4 linked regions of the Homo sapiens genome follow. The protein of the gene in region 4 interacts with the protein of the main gene of each other region in a pairwise test. Each region holds a gene or a part of one and is shown on either strand. Other genes may lie near its edges.

What was found. Proteins that work in one complex are often made in the same cells at the same time.
Region 1: the proteins of JPH3 (region 4) and AP2B1 interact in binary tests that used the Homo sapiens proteins (3 or more experiments, as listed by UniProt).
Region 2: the proteins of JPH3 (region 4) and ZSCAN9 interact in binary tests that used the Homo sapiens proteins (3 or more experiments, as listed by UniProt).
Region 3: the proteins of JPH3 (region 4) and DRG2 interact in binary tests that used the Homo sapiens proteins (3 or more experiments, as listed by UniProt).

What each region holds. Positions count from the first base shown.
Region 1 is NC_000017.11:35,593,326-35,598,470, forward strand, and holds part of AP2B1 (AP-2 complex subunit beta), read left to right. Parts: intron 1-682; 5' UTR 683-705; coding exon 706-742; intron 743-3,207; exon of another isoform or gene 3,208-3,805; intron 3,806-4,904; coding exon 4,905-5,010; intron 5,011-5,145. UniProt on the Homo sapiens protein: Component of the adaptor protein complex 2 (AP-2). Adaptor protein complexes function in protein transport via transport vesicles in different membrane traffic pathways.
Region 2 is NC_000006.12:28,223,487-28,229,223, reverse strand, and holds the start of ZSCAN9 (zinc finger and SCAN domain-containing protein 9), read right to left. Parts: upstream 3,950-5,737; 5' UTR 3,858-3,949; exon of another isoform or gene 3,541-3,857; coding exon of another isoform or gene 3,218-3,540; exon of another isoform or gene 2,293-3,217; coding exon of another isoform or gene 2,140-2,292; coding exon 1,720-2,139; intron 1,535-1,719; coding exon 1,387-1,534; coding exon of another isoform or gene 1,169-1,386; exon of another isoform or gene 1-1,168. UniProt on the Homo sapiens protein: May be involved in transcriptional regulation.
Region 3 is NC_000017.11:18,093,952-18,099,096, reverse strand, and holds part of DRG2 (developmentally-regulated GTP-binding protein 2), read right to left. Parts: coding exon 5,124-5,145; intron 828-5,123; coding exon 738-827; intron 81-737; coding exon 20-80; intron 1-19. UniProt on the Homo sapiens protein: Catalyzes the conversion of GTP to GDP through hydrolysis of the gamma-phosphate bond in GTP. When hydroxylated at C-3 of 'Lys-21' by JMJD7, may bind to RNA and play a role in translation.
Region 4 is NC_000016.10:87,686,008-87,691,152, reverse strand, and holds part of JPH3 (junctophilin-3), read right to left. Parts: intron 1,508-5,145; coding exon 627-1,507; intron 1-626. UniProt on the Homo sapiens protein: Junctophilins contribute to the formation of junctional membrane complexes (JMCs) which link the plasma membrane with the endoplasmic or sarcoplasmic reticulum in excitable cells.

The DNA of each region.
Region 1 (5,145 bases), on a different chromosome or scaffold from region 4:
GATAAATGCTTGAGGTGATGGATATCCCATTTACACTAATGTAATTATTATGCATTGTCTGCCTGTTATCAAAATATCTCATGTACCTATACGCACCTACTAAATACCCACAAAACTAAAAATTAAAAAAATTCCATGCATAAGTCATGGTTGCCTCTCTAGATGTTTGTTGTGAAAGAATATTGTCCTACTAATTTTGAATTTTTTTTTTCTGAAAGAGATTCTTTTTATTGAAAGTTTCATGTCATAGATCGGCAAAATTGTTTTTTCTTTTGACCTTACACTGCTTCAGAATATATGTTTTGGAGTGATTCCAGCTTGAGGCAAGGAAGTTACCAGATTTTCCTGAATGGAAAGTAATTGCAGATATATTTATAAAAAGGTCCAGCTTTAGCTCTTGAAAGCTTTGAGGAGTTACTGTGGATAAAATCACAAAGCCATAATAGGTTCATACTTTTACCCAGTTGCATTTGGCCTTTAGATTTTTGCCCCATTAGCTTGAGGAGTTACATTCTTAGTTTTTCTTGAACCATCAACGGTGGTGATAAAGGAAGATGATACTCATTTTTAGAAATTCTTAAATATAAGTGTTCCTAAAATTAATTGGATGTTCTTAAAATTAATTGGATGCCTTGTTGGATATCTATAACCTGAATGAAGGAATTCTTTTCTCTTGCTATAGGTGCACATTAAAGATCCAAAGTCATGACTGACTCCAAGTATTTCACAACCAATAAAAAAGGTAAGTATGAGAATACAATCAAATCTTTTGAAATTTTCAAAAGTTGTAGTGTAAGATTGCCCCAGGCAGAATGCTGCTGACCTCTTCCTTCAGACATACATGTAGCTGACAATCTCACTGGACATCTACTACTTCTATAGATGAATGTATTCAAGCAAGTTATTAAAGAGTAGGTTTTAAAAGAGAGGGCTGTGATGCACATTATTATGACTTGAAGGTTCTGTTTAGTGAAAGAGACTCCTCTTTGCTGTTTGAGATGATCCATTGGAGATTGGTTAAGTGTGAGGAGGACAAAAGAAGCAGCATACTTTTTCCCTTTTATTAAATAATTTTTACTTGGAAATAAACATTTTATAACAAAGAATACAATTAAAGCAATACAGATATGTATGTAAAAGGTAAAAATGAAAGTTCTCCCTTCCTGTTCCTATTCCCAAGGGAACTTGGTGTATATCCTCAAGTCTTTTTCTCTGCATATGAGTGCATATATTAATACATATGATTTAAAATTTTTTTATCTTTAATGAAAAAGCAATCTTGCAAAACAATGAATAGAAATGAGTTATTTTCATATCCGTCCATATACATCTACCATGTTCTTCGTCTAGATGTATATTTAAAACGGAATCTCTAGAGCCATCTATGGTTTTTAGGTCATAGACGGAATTACTTGAGGGACTTTGCACTTATTACTCTCATCATCTTTGTTATCAGTAATATAATGCTTGTTTTTACCTATGAGTTTGGGTCTAGGAACAAAGGATTCTTCTGGGGAAAGTCCAACCCTTCATCTTTTGTAAAATTGTTCCTAAATAAAATAGATCATTTCTAGAAATGTGGAGGGTCTTCCCATCAAAGACAAACATTTTAGCCCATCTCAGCTTATTGTGCCTGTAGCTTAGCTTGCTTTATTTGTTGCTTAGGATCAGAATTCTGTGCTTTTGTGTTCAGGAGTCCTTACATTTACCAAAGTATTCCAGACATGGCGCCAACTACCATTCTTCTTTTTCTCTTGTTGCAGTGAGTTGCTTAATTATGTCAGTTTGTTGTCTGTAGCTTTCAGTCTTGGCAACACATCAGAATTGCTCAGCCAGGGAACTTTGAAATAATACTGATGCCTGGGTCTCAACCTCAGCCTGATTTCAGTTGTCCTGGATATGGTCTGGGTGTGAGGATTTTAAAGGTTCTCCAGGTGGCCAGGCATGGTGGCTTATGCCTGTAATCCCAGCACATTGGGAGGCTGAGACAGGAGGATTGTTTGAGTGCAGGAGTTTGAGACCAGCCTGGGCAACATGGTAAGACCCTATCTCTATGAAAAAAAATTTAAAAATTAGCCCTGTACGGTGGTGCACACCTGTAGTCCCAGCTATTTGGGAGGCTGAGGTGGGAGGATCACTTGAGTGCAGGAGGTTGAGGCTGCAGTGAGTCGTGATTGTGCCGCTGTACCCCAGCCTAGGCAACAGAGAGAGACCCTGTCTCAAAAGAAAAAAATTAAAAAGAAAGCTCCCCAGATTATTTTAATGTGCAGCCATGATTGAGAACTACTGCTAGCTGCTAACAGTGCTTGGTAGATTTGATTGGGGGGAGGAGGAGGGAGAAAATATAGGAATTTAATAAAGTTGTAGAATATATGACTTTGCCTCTTTTAGTACCCCTCTTTGGTCCTGCCCAACTTTTTCCTCCTTATTTTTATTACTTACACCTCACAAAAGCCATTAGCCACTTGTCATTCAGTCTCAGCTTTTTCTGATTTTCTTTTGGAAATATGTTTATTTCTTCTTCTGTTAGCATTTTGTGTGCTTTGACGAACAAAATGTCTATAATTATATAAAGGGATACAATTACAATTAAATAGTTATAATTTTAAAACTCTCCTAATTCTTCAAACCTACTCTTGAAAAGTGTCCTGGTGACCTTTTTTTAATTCAGGCATTTGTAAAAGTTTGAGACTGCAGATTGAATCACTGCTAATAAACATCATACTTAAAAAAAATTGATAGATTGTGTTCCCTGTACTTCCTGCAACACCCACCAGAACTGCCACTGAAACATATTCTTTAAATTTATGCTTTTGGAATTGGAATAATTTCTGTTACATCCTGCTTTGATTCTATAACACCTGCTGCTGTTCACAATTCAGACTTTCTGAAACCCCGCCGTTTGTCCTTCACTGTTCCCGGAAGTGAATGAGAGGAACTCTAAGAGCTGGATTTGGCAGGATGGGACATGGTGAAGAGTCCTATGAAGAATGACTCTTTAAAGGGCCCAGCTTTTCTTGCTATGCTACTTTTGTAGCTGTTGATTAAATAGAAATTTTGGAACAATTTTTTTGCCTTATTGGCCATGGATATTGAAACGAAAAAGTGCTCTACTTCTGTGTCTTACTAATTTCATCCTTTCCACATAATGGTTTCAGGCAAATCACGTAGTGTTTGTCCCCACTATTTCTTTCTTTTTTTTTTTTTTGGAGGAGGGGAGGTCAGGTTTTAATGTCCCAGTCCTCGGGCGCCGTCATCCCGCGCCTGCCAGGCCCGGCGGCCATGTCGCTCACTCGGGTGGCGGCCAGCCTGCCTCATCAGGGCCTTCCGCGGAGGCCGCCCCGTCGCCCTCGAGCACCAGCTTCACGTCCAGCTCCAGCTGCCCGGTGTAGAAGCCCACGGCGGCGCACACCCAGAGCGGGCTGGTGGCGAGTACAGCGCCCGCAGCTGCGCCCCCTAGCGTCAGCTGCATGGGCCCCCGCAGCGCTGCCAGGCCCCGCAGGCGCTGCCCCACACCGCACACAGGCCGCCCAGCAGGAAGAAGCCATATGCTGCTTCGTGATCCATGTCACTCTGCATGAAGGAGATAACCCCGATGCCCTATGCCAGGAGGCCATTGTGGAACCAGGAGAAGAAAGCTGTCTCGTGCGCCTTTCGGAGAGGAGCCTGGCGCCTGCACGGTCCAGCTCGGACACAGGTGGCGGCGAAGCCCCGTTGTGGGGGCCGTGGCCGGGGGCGAAGGACCCCTGGGCGCCCCCGCTCCGGGGCCACTGAGGCAGCAGTAGCGACCTCCGGAAGCGGAGACTGTCCCCACTGTTTCTATGCTGGTAAATGAGATCTGGTTGAAAGGAACGACAGGAACAGTCTTGAAGGTGGAGGAAAGTCTTTTGAGGCAGTATGGTAGATGAGCTGGAGGATGTAGATGGAAAGTTGAGATGGGAGTAGTCAACCTCTTTTTCATGGACTTAGTGTTTTTTTTCCGTTTCTTTTAAACAATATTAGGGTTGTTACTTTCTTTTTTATTTTGGTTCCGGCTTCTTGCAGATAGGTGAGCCTGGAGACCAGGCCTTAAAATAGTGGTTACAGTCCCTGACAGTTTACAGTGCGGAGCCTAAGCAGTCATTCAAGATTGTACCTTTGGAAATGACTCCATTGTGTACCATTCTTGGTTTCAAGATTATTCTTGTTTGATTGAATAGCAAGGGCCTTAAAGCCCACTGATTTATTAAAGTACTGATTAAAGTAGTGATTCTCAACATTGGGTGTGCGTTAGAGTCACTTGGTGGAGCTCTTAAAGGTATAAATATGAGTTCTCTTTGACATTATGATTTATTTGGCCCAGAGTGGAGCCTGTACTTTGCTATATTTAGTATTTCTCAGGTAATATTAGTGTGTGGCCAGGGCTGAGAACCTTTGCATTCAAGAGTCAGGAGACACAGTGCTAAGCCCAACTTTGTCACTGACTCTGTGAACTTTGAGCCTCATTTCTTAATCTGTAAAGCCGAGCGTGGGTAAATGAGGTAATACGCGCCTGCTCCCTACCTACGTTTATGTTCTCCTCCAGACTTTAACATTCTGATGGAAGATCATCCTTCATATACTGTTCTCTCCCCATTGTAGCTAGATATAATGAGATTTGGTTTTTCCCACTCTTGTGGTTCTTGAAGATCTGGATTGCACCTTCCTCTCTGGCCATAATTTAAAAGATTTTTAAAACTTACTGATGGCTTCCTTGTCAGTGAGTCAGGTAATATTCTAGGGCTTTGAATTTTATATATTCTATAATTTTAAAATCTTATTTTAGTTGCTGCCCTGCTATCCTGGTATTGGTTATTACATAGTGTAGTATTCTGCTCTAAGTCTGTGGTACTGGAACCTTACCAGTTTGCTCTCATCTCTTGCAGGAGAAATATTTGAACTAAAAGCTGAACTCAACAATGAAAAGAAAGAAAAGAGAAAGGAGGCTGTGAAGAAAGTGATTGCTGCTATGACCGTGGGGAAGGATGTTAGGTAAGAGTAATCACCCTTGCCATTGATCACTTCAGAGGTCCATACCCCATCTTATGGCCTTTACTGCTTTTCCTTTAAAAGTATCATAATCATAGAACCTCTAAGAATGGGTTTGTCCCACTAAAAACATCATTA
Region 2 (5,737 bases), on a different chromosome or scaffold from region 4:
ACAGAAGCTATAAGAAGGTCTGCACAGAATTTACTCAACACATACACTTTAATTTAAATCAAGAGATGAGTTCCATGTAATAGAAATCCATAATTGCTAGGGTAAATGAAATAAACAGAACCTAGGGACAAAGAGGCAAGGGAAGTTGCAGCTTTGATGCATATAGGGGTAATATGAAACTGAAAACAGTAGAACCTTGCTACAGATTGATTGTCAGAACATTAACAAAAAGTCAGTAAGAGGGCATGATTTTATGTGTGGGAAATCAGACAAGCTAGAGCCAATTCCTGCAGGGAGGGCTAGAATGGGAAAGCAGCTGACTCAGTCCCAAGTGCTCAGTACTATATCCACAAGGGTGGTCACTGCCACCACTCAGAAGATTACAGAGAAGGAAATGGCAAAGTCTGATTTCACTGGATTCTCCCATACAGTTCTGCCACTTACTAAGCATATCTGATATCTTTCTACTCCAAGTATGAACCCAAATCAGCAAGGGTGGCACTGGTGATTTGTGACAATAGTGACCATGTATTAAGCATAATGCATGCCAAGTGCTTTTCATAAATTGTATTTGATACTCACAATGACTTTCTGAGGTACATACTGGTTACGGACTAAATTGTATTCCCTCACATATGCTGAGGTCCTAACCCCTCAATATGATTATATTTGGAGATAGGGCCTTGAGGAAGGTATTAAAAGTTAAATGAGGTTATAAGGAAGGGCCCTATCGGGTAGGAATGGTATCTGTCCTTATAAGATGAGAGAGCTTGCTCTCTCTCTGTATGCATACAGAAGAAAGGCCATGTGAGGATACAGCAAGAAGATGGCCATCTATAAGCCAGGAAGAGGCCTCACCAGAAACCAAACCTGATGGTATCTTGATCTTGGACTACTAGCCTTTGAAAATGTGAGAAAATAAATTTCTGTTAAAGACAACCAGTCTGTGGTATTCTCTTAAGGCAGCGCAAGTAGACTAAACCAAAGCTATTATCAACCCCATTTTGTAGATGAGGGATCTGAGGTCAAGTGGTTAAGTAATCTGCCCAATACAAGCAGCTTCCATGAGGCGATGCCAGGATCTGAACCTGTCTGTCAAACCTTGAAGTCCATTCTCTGAAGCTGTGCTCCACAGCGATCCCTGAAAGCCTTCCTCATGTACCATGCATCAGAAGTCCAGAAAGCTTCCAGGGTGGTACTCAGGGAGAAGTCTGCACGCAGGGAGAAGGGTCAAAGATGAGCACACTAGGCTCTCAGAAGAACTGACCATTACTGCTATCTGGTAAGGAGTCTTTGGGTCTCCTGTTTTCCCAGCTCTGGGTTTATTGTTTGTTTTTGCTTGACCAGGTGGGATTCGTTCAACATCAAATAAATGCTGTCCCTCACCTGTCTCTCCAATAGAATGGCACTTCTGAGCAGAGTCACATGTGAGCTGTGGCTCCTTAGGCTGGGACTGAAGGGTCAGTGGTGTCTGCTCTGCTAGAGGCACCATCTCTTTACAGAGGACTTCTTGTCTGTGTCTGTGGGCCACCATCTGGGGACAAAAAGACAAGATTTGACTTTTGAAGAAATTAACTGTCTGAAATAAACACTTCCAAGAAAGAAGGAAACAGGAAGAGAGTATTTTATCACCAATGTCAAGGAGACACAAAGCAGAAGTGACAAGGATTCTTGGCATGCCAAAATACACATTTTTCTCTAGCAAATCTCCCTTCCTACCTCATGTTGTGGTTCATCGAGCTCTCTCTCCAGATCCTCCAGCAAAATCACAGCCTCTTCTCCACTCTCTGGACAGTGTTCCCTCACCCAGCCCTGGAGCTCCTTGGGCAGAATGGATAGAAACTGCTCCAGCACCAGCAGATCCAAAATCTGCTCCTTTGTGCTCACATGTGGCCTCAACCACTGGTAGCAAAGTTCCTGGAGTCGAGTAAGAGCCTCCCTTGGTCCAGGGGTCTCTTGGTAGCACAGCTGTCGAAAGTGCCTTCGGAAGATTTCCCTTGCCAGTGGATTACTGCGTTTCAGTCTGGATTCCTGCCATTGAAGGTGACTTTTTGCTTCCACTTTCATTGTCAGAAGTTCTTCCCATGCCTCGGGAACTTGAACACCCAGGGATAAAACCTCCTTTGAGTTTGTATTCATCTTGACCTTGAACAGCTTAAAAGGTACCCTCCAGCTGGAGCTATGCTTCAAGACAAACCTTGGAGGCGCTTGCCTAAGCAGTAAAAATAAATTATTTATATAGAAAAATGATAATAGCTGATGACAGAAACTGATAATACAAGCAATTATCATAGGCCCTAAAGCTCTTCTCTGAAAAGTGATTTGGTGACCAAAGGATGGAAATAATGGAAATATATATATTCATAATGTGCTAAGAGCATAAGCTTTTAAGTTACCCAGATATGGGTTTTCTTTCTTTCTTTTTTTTTTAAATGGGGAATTTCACTCTGTTTCCCAGGCTGGAGTGCAGTGGCATAATCACAGCTCACTGCAACCTCAAACTCCTGGGTTTAAGTGATCCTCCCACCTTGGCTTCCCAAAGTGCTGGGATTACGTCAGCCACCACAGCTGACCCAGACCTAGGTTTTATTCTGATCCTAATATTTACTAGTTGTGTGACCTTGTGCCAAGTTTTTAAATCTTCTTTCAATCTTGATTTCTTTATGTGAAGAAGAAATAGCAATAATGCTTCACAGAGTTCATGGAGGAAAACAGCCCATGAATTAGGGACTGCACCGATCACTCAGAAAGTCTGAATAAAAAGTTTGAACTCACTGTATAAACATCAACTTAGAGAAAGAATAAATGGAAATATTGTTACTGTCGACTAAATGAACGAACCAACATTTACTTTACTATTTACTTCAGTTTTCTTAATCTTCAAAACAACCATTTAAGGTTAGTATTATTTTCACTAAATTTACAGAAAGAAAGGCTTAGGTGGATTCCAAGTCCTGGAGCTTTCCACACCGCCCTGCTGCTACTGAAGAATAACAGTCAACACTGCACAAGTCTACAATATGCTTTCAGATACAAGACTATATTTCATCCTCACAATTACCCACTGAGGTTTTATTATAATAATTATTTCACTAGATAAGAAATGGAAGCCAGGGAAAGTTAAGTAGATTGCCCAAGGTCAACTTCTTTTTGAGGACAATCCTAAGAAGCCAAAGAAGCCCAAGGGAAAAGTTTTCTCCACAGACGCAGGAAGCACCTGAAACCCATGGGGGTGTTCCCAAAATGTGTGTCTCCAAAATGCCAGGAAGCACAGCGCAGCAGCTGAATTCCAGCTTGAAAGGCCCTATGGCAGACATCTGGGGAATCTGAATTGGGAGGTGGAGAGAAGTACAGGGAGACCCAGAATATGCCCTTTAACGGGCTCCTCAGTGATTTGTATGTATTATAAGGTTTGAGAATCAATGAACTAAGGAAAAGGGAATCGGGAACTGCTACATTCTGCGCTTGAAAACCAGTCCATTCAACGCCCCTTAATTTGCTTTCAGAATCTAGAGGTAAGAGGGTATACAGGTTCTCCATCGTGAAGGCTGCCAAAGTCTTAATTGTCCTTAACTTCCTCTCCCGGGTGTTTCTTTCCCTGAGTCCTAAGCCTGTTGTCGTTATTCACCGAGGTGACCCTTCAGCCTCGCAGTCCTCCTACAACCCTTTCTTGTACAATGTCCCCACAGCTGGGGATGACCACTCTGGTCTAGGGGACGCCCGAAGCCGCCCGGCACTGACCGCCGCCCCCTCCTCCGGCTCCCACTTCCCAGCGGCTGAGGTTCACTTTCCACACCCCTTTTCCAGCCCCACCCTCCCTGACCCGCCTCCATTCCCGGTCCCCACAGCCAACTCACGAGACCCGGAACGCGCAAGGAGGGAGAGGGGGTTACCGGCCCGGCGTTGCTAGAAGCGCGGCACGAACAATGGCCGGGCAGGGAACAAAGATGCCGACCTCTCCTCGAAGGCGGACGGAGCAGAGGCACTTCCGGGCCGGTCTAGGATTCCATGTCTCGATGTCCGGCGTTCACCTTGCTTCGGACTCAACCCCCAATTTCCTGGCGTCCAGTTCTTTTTCAGCAGTGAATCACATAATCAGAATGTCATACGTGTGTGGGCCGCACACAGGTTTTAAACGGAAAACGTTGATGAAGCATAGACCGTTAACTATTGAAAATGATGATTTTTAAAAGCATTTTTAAAATTAATACATTATTTATGGTTTAAAAACCCTCAGACAATACCAAAATTAATAAAGTAAAATGTCAAACCCCACCTACCCCTCCTTAGTCCCACTCCCCGAGGCAGCCACTGTCACCGTTAGCCTGGAATTTGTATATCATTGTGATCCTCTCTCACACACACAATGGCATTATTTTATATTTAGCCTTTTCTCCCCCGCTTATTTTAACGTTTTCACTTCATGTATCCTAAAAAGCTTTACTCATCATGTAAGTCTAACTTATTGTATGGGTGCATAACAGTCCATAAAGCAATTTATTTGTCCAGGCCCCTATGTATTCTTTATTTAGGCATCTGCCTGCGTGCTTGCCTTCTTTCCTCCCTCCCTTCCTCTTTTCCTACCTTCCTCCCTCCCTTCCTGCCTTTCTCCCATCCTCCTTTCCTTTTCTTTCTTTCTTGTTTTTGTTTTTTGTTGTTTTTTTTTTTTGCTGTAAAAGTTTTCTGGAGTTTTAGTAATAATAATACAAAATCAAACCAAAACCAATTAAATAAATTTGTCACCCAGGCTGGAGTGCAGTGGCACCATCATAGCTCACTGCAGACTGCAACTCCTGGCTCAAGCAATCCTGCCTCAGCCTCCTGAGTAGCTGGGACTACAGTCACATACCACCATGCCCAGCATTTTTTTTGGGGGAGGGGGGTAGAGACCAGGGTCTCGCTTTGTTGGCCAGGCTGGTCTCTAACTCCTGACCTCAAGTGATCCTCCCACCTCCGCCTGGCAAAGTGCTGGTACAGGCATGAGCCACCATGCCCAGCCTTAAATAAATTTTATTGGTACAAAAGAGCGTAATTGTAGGTACTGTTAGTCATTCATCAGTTTTACTATGCCAACCAGAATGATGGTGTCACGTAGATTAAACTATATTCTGTTTGTTTTAACAGAATCTTATCATTTATTTTATTAAAGCAGTAAGAAAGTATCTTGTGTGTTAATGGAGGCTCCATGATCTGTTTTAACTCCAAAACGGTAGTAGCTCGGAAAATTTCTTTATTATTTTCCTCAACCTAGCCTTCTGAGGGCATTAAATAAACCCAAGCTTTATGCTTTACTTCTTTTTCTTTCAAATATCCAATAAGTATATAATCAATAAGAGCACTAACATGCAGAAAATTTGCTCAAAAATCCTCATCACTTTTTCCACCATACCATGTTCACTTGCAAATCCCTCATTACAAACTTTCCTAACAAACTATGAAATGAGAGTAAATGCTCAATTTCTCTTGGACTTGAATAGACTGTTTAAATATGTTATTCTTTTCCATTTTGTATGACCATCTGTGACAAGTAAATGCAATTTAATATTTGTATGAAACTTCTTAAATGTCTCACTGGCAGTTGGTTAGGGTCTCTCACTGGTTTATATGTGCTTGCTAAGTGGGTCAACTATAGGGCTCAGGCAGGCTCCAGCCCAGAGTCAAGTGGGCAGCACGTTGGACTTCACAATGGTTAGCCCTGAGAGAGACTGGCTTTCATTTGTCTGTTTCCGGGAAGATT
Region 3 (5,145 bases), on a different chromosome or scaffold from region 4:
CACCTGCCCTGCCTCCCACCTTGGGCTGCGCCTTCAATGATTCCAGGAAGGTCCAGGAGCTGGATGTTGGCACCTTTGTACTAGGATGCAGAAGAGAAGAAAGGTAAGGCAAGGCTGGGCCTCCACTGGAAAGGTCCTGTCTGGATCTGGGACATCTGGAATGGCCCCGGGGCTCAGGGGCTGAGGGAAACCCAGATGCCAACCTGTGGCCAAGTCTGAGCCTTGTCACCACCCCAGCCCAGTGCAGACCACAGCCTATGAGCTGAGTAGCCGCCTAGGGAGGGCTCAAGATCTTCCAATCCCACAACACTCATCACTGATGATACCAGCACTTTACAAATAAATTGTTTCACCATGGGAACTTAAGGCCATACCACTCAGCTGCCCAAAGCAAACACAGCCCAAGGCAGTGAAGCTTCATGGGGAGGCAGAAGGATCCAGCCAAGCAGCAATTAGTGACCAGAGCTGTGGTGGTGTTGGGGAGGAGAGCACAGGGGGCGCCAGGCAAAGTAGCCACATGCTGGCCTGACCTCCTAGTTCCAGGCCCCACCAGGCATCTCTGGGGTCCAGCAGCTAGGATCCCCAGAAGTGTCAGTGCTGGAGGGCAAAGCAGCTCAGTCCAGAGCCTGTCCTGACATGGGGACATCCACCCAGACTCACACACAGGGTGGGCACAGGCACAAGTCCAAACACAAGCATGCGCCCCTTCTCCTTCTGGGCCCAGCACACCCACTTACTTCAATGACCCCAGGAATACACGTCAGAGTGGTGAACTCATAGGACGCTGCCTCGCTGGCCGTGGAGGTCATCAGACTCAAGAATGTGGACTAGGAGAAAAGGAGATCATTGCACTGAGGAGCCTTGTCCCTGGCCTTCTGGGAGAGGCCCCAGGGGCTGGGGGCCTGCAGGTGCAGGCAGCAGGAGGAGACCCTCTCACCCTCGGCTTGGTGACCTAGGTGGCTGTGAAGAGACCTCCCAGCCAGAGGGCTCACCTCTGGCCCTGTCCTGGATGGGTCAGACACCAGAGGCCCATCTGTTCCTTGGAGGCCTCAGGACTGTCTCAGGTAGAGGCAGGGATCTGGATTCTGATGGGGTTCCCCATATACATCAGGAGCCTCTCCTAACCCCACACAATCCTCCAGGCCCTCTTGGCCCCAGAGAACTTTAAGCAGGTGGCAGTCCCACGGCACTCGTGGAACCAGTACCCAGACATGCTGTGCACCCAGGGAGGGTGTAAGGAGGTGTGCAAGGAGATGTCAACCTCCTGGGCTGAGGCAGAGACAGCTGACAGGAGAGGTGTCGCAGGGAGGGAGTGGGGAACTGGGAAGATGTGGATGTGACCACTCAGACCACCGTTCACTGTGGCTGGGAGTTGGAGAAACCTGGCTTTGAATCCTGCCTCTGCCGGGGTGTCCTGGGATTGGGCAGGAAACTCCATACTCTCAGTTCAGGGTCTTTACATGTAGAATGGGCATGAACCCGGTCCCTACCTCACAGGACTGCACAGGGATTAAAAAGATAAGGCCCGGGATGTGCCTCACTCCAAACACTGTAACATCAGTGATAGATGCTGTGGCTGAGGCCAGCCAAGCAGTGGGCAGACCCAGGGAGGGAAGAAACCCAGCCCCATGCCTCCTGCCCCATCCTAATCAGCAGGGCCCCAGGAACGAGAAGCCTGAGACTCTGAGTTGCAGGGCCAGCTATCCAGACCCTGCCTCCTGGCTGACTGGCAGGAAGACTGGGGGCACCCTCCCCAAGGCACCCTTAGACCTCTCAAGTCCAGAATGTGGCATGTGATGGAAATACATCGAGTTCCCAAATCCAGAAACCCTCAGCCTTGGGGATCTCCTGGAAACTCAAGAAATGAGAAAAACCTGGTGGAGTGGACAGGTATAGGGATAGACACGGTGGCCCCAAGAGCAATGGCTGTTGAGACAGCCAGCAACCAACCTCGGGGCCACTCCCTGATTCTGTCTGGCCCCTGTAAGACCTGGGCCCTCCCACGGTGGGAGAGCCTATACTCCCAATAAGGCAGGTGGGATCTGCCATGGGCCCAGACTTCAAGGGTCACGGCTCTTGGTAACTAGAGCGGCTTCTCTATCAATCTCTCTCTCTCTGATACATATACCAATCATATAGGCAGACAGTACAACAAATAAAACTAAACACTGCCCAGCCTGCAGCAAGCACTCAAGAAAAGGTAGCTGTTAACCACCATCCCCTGTGCCTGGCCCAGAGCAATGGAAACTGGGTGTGGGCTCAAATTGTTCAGCTGAACTGAGTTAGAAGCTGCTCCCCAGCACCTGTCCAGAGCTTTGGTTGTTGCTCACTTGGCCTATATTCTAGCAACCTCTCCACTGTCCCACTTCACTTTGCCCTGCTATAACCTGCTATCTACACAACAGCCAGAGTGATTCTGTAAAAAAGTAAGTCAGCGCCCAGATGGTAGTTTCTAATGCTATTCTCCAATCAAAGGAACCAGGGCTCCTTAGAGAAATGGCAGATTCTAGGCCAGGGCAGGGAATATACAAAATGAGCCTGAGGCATCTTGCAGTGTCAGAAAGTGAGGAAGTGCTGGAAAAACACAATGGTGGAAGTACATCAAAGAAGCCAACTAAAATAGCTCCAAAGCTAAAAAGATTTGAGCAGCAAAAGAACATGGTATGGGTTTAGACCCCAAAGCACAAAATAACCCCCCACGAATCCATACGGATATCAATAAATGATTGAATAAAACAAATGAATGGGAGAAGAGAGACAAATCTCCCATGCAGAAGAATTCCAAACAGTTTCTGTAGATGCTCCCCTCAAGGAGGCGATGGAATTGGACTGCACACAGTCACCTCCCTCCCCAAAGCGGCATGGCAAGGGGAGAAGAGAGCGTCTCCACGGTGGAGAAACCTGACACACCTCAGCCAGGTGGTCAAGATCAACATCAGCAGGGGTAAGTCATGTTGACAGTATGTGGCCTTCATGCGATGTGATAAAAATGGCACTTTACCTCTGTGGCCTTCCTTGCTAACTATAACCCCAGATTAACCACGAGAAAAACATTGGACACACCCCAACTGAAGGACTTTCTACAAAATATGGGAATGGTACTCCTTAAAACCGTCAAGGTTATCAAATCAAGGCAAGTCTAAGGAACTGTCTAGAAGAGCCTAAGGAGACATAACAACTGAACTGTGATGTGGGATCTCAGGACAGAAAAAGGACAGTGGGGAGGAGCTAAGGAAATCTGCATAAAGCCAGACTTGAGGCAAGAACAGATCAATATTCATTGGTGTAAAATGTTAACTGCCAGGGAAAATGGGTGTGGGGTATATGGGAACTCTGTATTACCTTTGCAATTTTTCTGTAAATCTAAGACTATTCTAAAATAAAAAGTTTACTTTAGGCCGGGCGCGGTGGCTCACGCCTGTAATCCCAGCACTTTGGGAGGCCAAGGGCGGGTGGATCACCTGAGGTCAGGAGTTCAAAACCAGCCTTGCCAACATGGTGAAACCCTGTCTCTACTAAAAAAGGATACAAAAAATTAGCCGGGCGGGGTGGTGCATGCCTGTAATCCCAGCTACTTGGGAGACTGAGGCAGGAGAATTGCTTGAACCTGGGAGGCGGAGGTTGTAGTGAGCTGAGATCGTGCCATTGTACTCCAGCTTGGGCAACAAGAGTGAAACTATACCTCCAAAAAAAAAAAAAAAAAAAAAAAGAGCCGATCAGACATCTCTTTTCTGCTCAAAACCCTGCAATGATGTTTATTTTATTCCTCACATAAAAGTAAATCACGCCGGGAACGGTGGCTCATACCTGTAATCCCAGCACTTTGGGAGGCCAAGGTGGGCGGATCACCTGAGGTCAGAAGTTCGAGACCAGCCTGGCGAACGTGGTGAAACCCCACCTCTACTAAAAATGCAAAAATTAGCCAGGGGTGGTGGCGGATGCCTGTAATCCCAGCTACTCGGGAGGCTGATTGATAACTGCTTGAACCCAGGAGACAGAGGTTGCAGTGAGCCGAGCAAGACTCCATCTCAAAAAAAAAAGTAAACCAATATAGATTATACGCTAAACAGAGCAACTTCCAGAAGAAACCTTCTTTTTTTTTTTTTTTTTTTTTTTTTTTTTGAGATGGAGTTTTGCTCTTGTTGCCCAGGCTAGAGTGCAATGGTGCAATCTCGGCTCACCGCAACCTCTGCTTCCCAGGTTCAAGCGATTCTCCTGCCTCAGCCTCCCGAGTAACTGAGATTACAGGCATGCGCCACCACCCCTGGCTAATTTTGTATTTTTAGTAGAGACAGGGTTTCTCCATGTTGGTCAGGCTGGTCTTGAACTCCCAACCTCAGGTGATCCACCCACCTTGGCCTCCCAAAGTGCTGGGTTTACAGGTGTGAGCCACCGCGCCCGGCCGAAGAAACCTTCTAAAAACTCTGCAGTTTCATTCTTCAATCCAAGCCAGGGTCCTTTCGGCCGCCCATATGCCGCTATCCTCTCTGTCTTCTGCCCTCCTTGTGCTCCTCAGAGAGCCACCTGGGCCTCCCTGGACACACCAAGCGAGCACCTGCCTAAGGGCCTGTGCTCACTGTTCCCTCTGTCTGGAAGGTTCTCACCCAGGACTCTGCAAGCTCACTCACTTCCTTCAGGCCCCTGCCCAAATACTCACTCACCAGAGAAACCTGCCGGGACCTGTCGTAACTAGCAGACCTTCACCCTGTCACTCACCAGCCCCCACTCCTCACCACTGGATGCACCTTATTACTTATTTACTGTCCTTTCTCTTCAAGAATGGGAGATCTATGTGGGCAGGGACAGAGCTCTGTCTCATTCATGCTATGTCTCTAGTCCCTGGCACAGTGCCCAGCACATGACACCGCTAGAGATACACACTCGAGAAGTATTTGTGTGTGATGACTGAGTCGGAAGACCAAGTAGGGCTCCATCTGCTGGCAAGAGGAAAGAGCGTCCTCCATGTTAGGATGATAAAGGGCTGGGATCTGACCCTGGGGGAGGCCAGGTCTTCTGTGTCCCTGGAGCTAAGCAGAAAGGCAGCGAGGGGAGCCTGGATGGTCACCTGTTTGAAAGATGACTTCTTGCTTTCCTCCCCGAGGCCCACACTGACCATCACTGACCTTACCCACAGAGGGAAATCCA
Region 4 (5,145 bases):
AGCCCAGGGGGACGCTGTTCTTCCCTCCAAGCTGCCTGCCCTGGAGGAACGAATTTGGGGGGGGGGTGCTGGGTGAGGCTGACGGTGAGTTGCACACAGCGGGCCTCACGTGGGAGCCGGCTCCAACCCCAACACCCCCCATGGGTGAGAGAAACCTGGACTGGCAGCTCCCCCCAACCCCAGACCTGACTCCCAGCCCCAGGGCCAGCCTTGCCCCCAGCTGTTTCGCCTCTGGGTTCCTATCCAGGACACAGGACACTCAAGCGGTCATCTCACGGCCCAAGGCTACTGACCAGGGGCACAGACTCTTGGAGCAGCTGGGGTTGAGCACGTTGCGGGGAGCGCAGGGATCCCATGCTGCCTGGAAACCAGGAGTTTCGTGTGCTTTCTGGACAACCTGGGGGCAGCCTCTCACGGAAAGAGGTATGACACCTGCCCCACCTGGCTTCCTAGGGGAGGGTCCCAGCGACCTGAGGGCCACCACTCCCGGCTGTACCCCCACCCTACTCCACCCCTGGAGAGGAACAGGGGAGCAGTGACCTTGCTGGAAACCCTCAGGAAACACCAGGTCAGCAGAGAGGTGGATGTTGCCTCCACTGGGACCAGCCTGGTGGCCGCCCACTCACCGTACTGGACTTGAGCTCATCCCCATTCTCCTCGTCGGACTCTAGAGCGACAGGCAAGGATTTCTGGGGCGGGGAGAAGGTCAAGTCCCAACGCAGCAACCGGGGCTCGGCCCCGCCCAGCCGCAGGCTCGCCAGTTTCTGCACGGCGGGCTCCGCGGAGGAGGCCGGCCTGAAGTTCTCCTTGTTCTGGGCCTTGGACCGCAGTCTCTGCACCCCGAAGCCCCGGTCCTCGGGGCGGTGGTCGTCCCCCAAGCCCCGGCAGGCGCCGCCCTTGCTGTAGCGTCTTTTCTGGGGATGCGTCTCCATCCTCAGCAAGGGTTTCATCTCCATCCGGTAGTTGCTCAGCTTCTCCTCCTGCAGCTCCAGCAGCCTGGAGCCTCCGGGGCTGTGGTTGCTGGCCCGGTGGTGGGAAGTCCACGTGAACACGGGGGGTGACTCCGTCCGCCGCTCCCGCGGCTTGGGGTTCCCGGGCTGCTTGCGGCCCGAACCTCGGGTGCGGAAGTCATCCACGAGCAGGCCGCCGCGCAGGGCACCGCTGCGGACACCCCTGGAGCCCCCGGCCTGCTCCTCGCCCCAGCTGCTGCGGGCGCAGTCCCCGGCCCGGCCCTCCAGGAGCATCTGGATGTCCCCGCCCCGCTCCTCGTCCACCGACACCTGCCTCGAGAAGTGGGCGACCTTGTTCCTGGCGGCGGGCGCGGGCGGCGGGGTGGCCGCGGGGCTGGTGGGGAAGCTCTGCAGGGGGCTGTCGTCGGGGGTCAGGTCGGAGGGAGTGGTGCCCTTGCGGTACAGCTCGGGGCTCTCCTGCTGCAGGGGTGTCCCGGTGGACAGCACCTCGATGTCGTCACAGGAGGTCTGACGCTTCGGCCTCTGGTACTCCAGCCCTGTATGGGGACACAAGACGACGCCAGACGGCGTTACCCAGCACATTCCACAGCGAGGCCGCGGTCCCCGGGCCAGGGCGCCAGAGGGAACCTCAGGGCAGCAGAGGCGCTTCCCACTCACCGAAAGGCTGCAGGCAAGGGAGGGGAGTGGGGACCGTGGCTCCCAAAGCCCTCTGTGGGACCCCCGTGGTCCCCACCCCACAGACACTTGGAGGGAGACTGGCTAGGCCCAGGCACCACAGGAAGGGCGGACAGCAGCTCCCAGGCTACAAGGGAGACCCAAGGCTCGGAAAGTGCGTGAGGACGCTGGGGTGTGGACTCAGGTCCCACCAACCCTGACTCGCCTGTCCTGAGGGTAAGAGGAAGCCCCTCACCCTAGCTGACCACCTGTCTGGGGAGGCCGAGCTGTCACAGCAAGGCCGCCAACACCCCTACCCGCCTGGGACTGTGTCTCAGGGTGCTGGGACAGTCTTGCTGAGAAACAGCCAGTGCCGGGGCCAGCGTGAGAGCCCAGGAGCCGACTTCCCTCCCCACCTTTCGAGGCTGCTGGGGCTTCAAGTCCTAGGGCGGGGCTCCCCGGAAGGGGAGGTCACCACAGGACCCAGGGGCCAGCTCTGCAGCCAGCAGAGTCCCTGTCGTCTGCCGGTGGCTCAGTCCCCATCAGCCCCCACCCGGAGGCCTGGATAGGGAGGGGCAGCATTGTAGGACTAGCCCCGAGACTTCTCCGGAGCTCCGTGAGCCCCCAGCAGGAGGTGAGAACCAAGAACATTGACTGGGATCTCATTTCCTGCCAACGCAGGGACACGGGAGCCATGCCCGACTTTATTCCATTAGGAGAAACCCAAGAACGCGGCGCTTCTTACCCTCCGGGGAACAGTTACACGTTCATCTCAAGTAGCGTCCTAGGCTCAGCACAGAACAGTGGGACCCCCGCCCCCAGCATCCCCGTCCTGCCCGAGCCAAAATGGTGCAGAGCTCTGTGGGAATTTGGGGAGTCTTCCCTCTGAGGACGGAGGTCTCAGAGCTCTACCCGGGGCGGCCACCTCATGAGACCAGCTCGGACACCAAGAGCCACTGCCCATCTTAGAGTCTCTCACGCTCGGACATTCTCCTGGCCTGTACCCCAGTCTGACCTTTTGGCAGGAGAAGGTCTGGGAGACGCCTGTACCCCAGTCTGACCTTTTGGCAGGAGAAGGTCTGGGAGACATGGCTACCCTCGGTGTGGCACCAGATAGTCCCTCCGTTTGTAAAGAGACGTTAGCAAGCAGATTCGGGGCACGCTGCGACGCCACCAGGCTGGGCTGCTGTGTCCTCCTCCTTGCTGGTCTAAGAGGCAGTGCTGAGCAGAGCGAGGCCATGGCCCTGGCCTGGGGCTTGGGGCACAGCTGGGTAGCTCTGGGTGGGTGGCCAGCCCTCCCAAGTCTGAGTTCCTGTCACACGGGGGTGTGGGTGGGCCACTCTGAGGTCTCAATGACTGCTTCTCTGTGGTCACTCCCCAGAAACAGGGCTGGGCTGGTTGGGTGTCCCCCGAGCAGAGCAGGGAATGGGCCAGAGAAGGTCTGTGTAGAACTGTGCTGACATCCACGTACCCACCTGACGCCCAGCCCCACCACCTCTCTCCCCGTGAGGGTCCTGTGTGGAGGGCAGCCCTGGCCCCATCAGAGGCCCCCAATCATGCCCACGGATCACCCACATCGTACCTCCTCCTTGGCCAGGATGGGACTTCCAAGGGGCTGGCATTCCTGTGCCTTAGACGCTATGGACCTAGCAGGCTGGGATCAAGGCCCCCCCCATCCCCCGATGGCGCCCCGGCCTTTCCCACCAGGTCGTCCACCCACTGCTGCCGAGATCAGGCCTGGCTGGCCCAGGAGACCCCACGCTAGAGGGGCCCCGACTCCCAGCACCACCAGCAGGAGGGCACCCTCAGCTAGAATGAGCTGCTGAGCAGGTAACGTTCCTAGAAGCCTCGTGGTGAGGATGCAGGGCGGGTCCTCGTGAAGCCCCTGCAGCTTCTTCCTGTGCCTTCAAGCCACCTGCGTCCTGCAGCCTCCGACGCTCAGTCCTCCTGCCTCTGGGGCGGGGGCGGATGGCACCGGAAGTGGCCTGGGCACTGGACACCGCATGGCCAGGCTCCTTCATGGTCCTGCCTTCACGTGGCCTTGGGCAGAACCCTGACGGTCAGAGTTCTCGGGCTGGGAGGCTGCCAGGGACCTCCCAGACAGGCAGCAAGAGGCTGGCGCCAGCCACTCTCTGCAGCCGAAGCGCTGGATGGTTTGCTTCTCTAGAAGCCGGCATGGCCCAGGCTTCAGAGCCTCGTTTTAAATCCTGATTCCACCACATCCTGCCTGAGCGCTCTGGCAACCCTGTTCCCCTCTTGGAGGCTCTGTTCTGTCATCTGTCATTGGTGACCTCAGCTCCTGGCTGTGAGGACGACTGAGGAAGGACCTGGACAGCTTCCCCCAGCCCCACCCCTCCCCAGCAGCCGAGAAGGCCCCGGGGTGCCTGGTCTGGGAACACTGATCCTGAATGCATCCAAGGCGGAAACAAGAAATGCTTGGATCAAATCTCATGCCAGTCCCAGCGCTTGTAAAAAACACACGGTCCCAACGCCCCCTCCAGGGAAGATGCTGCTCAGAGAAGGCTCCGGGGCGCCACCCAAAGAGGTGGCAGATCGGACCGAGGTGCTCAGAGTGAGCCAGGCTCCAAGGTGCAGCAGCAGGAGGTGAGGCCAACTTGGCCAGACCCTCGAGGACTGGACTCCCACCAGTGAGGCAGCAGCGGCCCCGTCTCTCCATCACAGCGGCCCCCACAGGGGCCCGCATCTGTATCATGAAGACAAGAACTGTCGGAGGAGGCAGCTTCAGGACTTAAAAGGTCAGCCCAAGGCCCCTCCTGCAGGGACCTGAGCCCTCCAGGAAGCATCTCCTCTGAATCCAGGACTGAGCCCTCCAGGAAGCATCTCTGACTCCAGGACTGAGCCCTCTGGGAAGCATCTCCTCTGAATCCAGGACTGAGCCCTCCAGGAAGTATCTCCAAGTCCAGGACTGAGCCCTCCAGGAAGCATCTCTGACTCCAGGACTGAGCCCTCGAGGAAGCATCTCTGACTCCAGGACTGAGCCCTCCGGGAAACATCTCTGACTCCAGGATTGAGCCCTCCAGGAAGCATCTCTGACTCCAGGACTGAGCCCTCTGGGAAGCATCTCCTCTGAATCCAGAACTGAGCCCTCCAGGAAGCATCTCTGACTCCAGGACTGAGCCCTCTGGGAAGCATCTCCTCTGAATCCAGAACTGAGCCCTCCAGGAAGTATCTCTGACTCCAGGACTGAGCCCTCCAGGAAGCATCTCCTCTGACTCCAGGACTGAGCCCTCCAGGAAGCATCTCCGACTCCAGAGTCTTAACTGGAATTCTCAGGGTGGGGGAGCCTGCACCCATTTCTTGGGACTGGAGCAGTAAAGCACCACGCGGGGGTGGGGGTAGAAACACCCAAAAGGCAAACTCGTGTTTCTGGAAGTTAGAAGCCGTGATCCAGGTGTCGGGAGTGCTGCTTCCTTCCAGGGTCTCCGCTCCAGCCACCCTCCAGCCACGGAGTCTCCAGTGATCTCTGACATCACTCCATCCGCCCCTGTCTCCTCCTCTT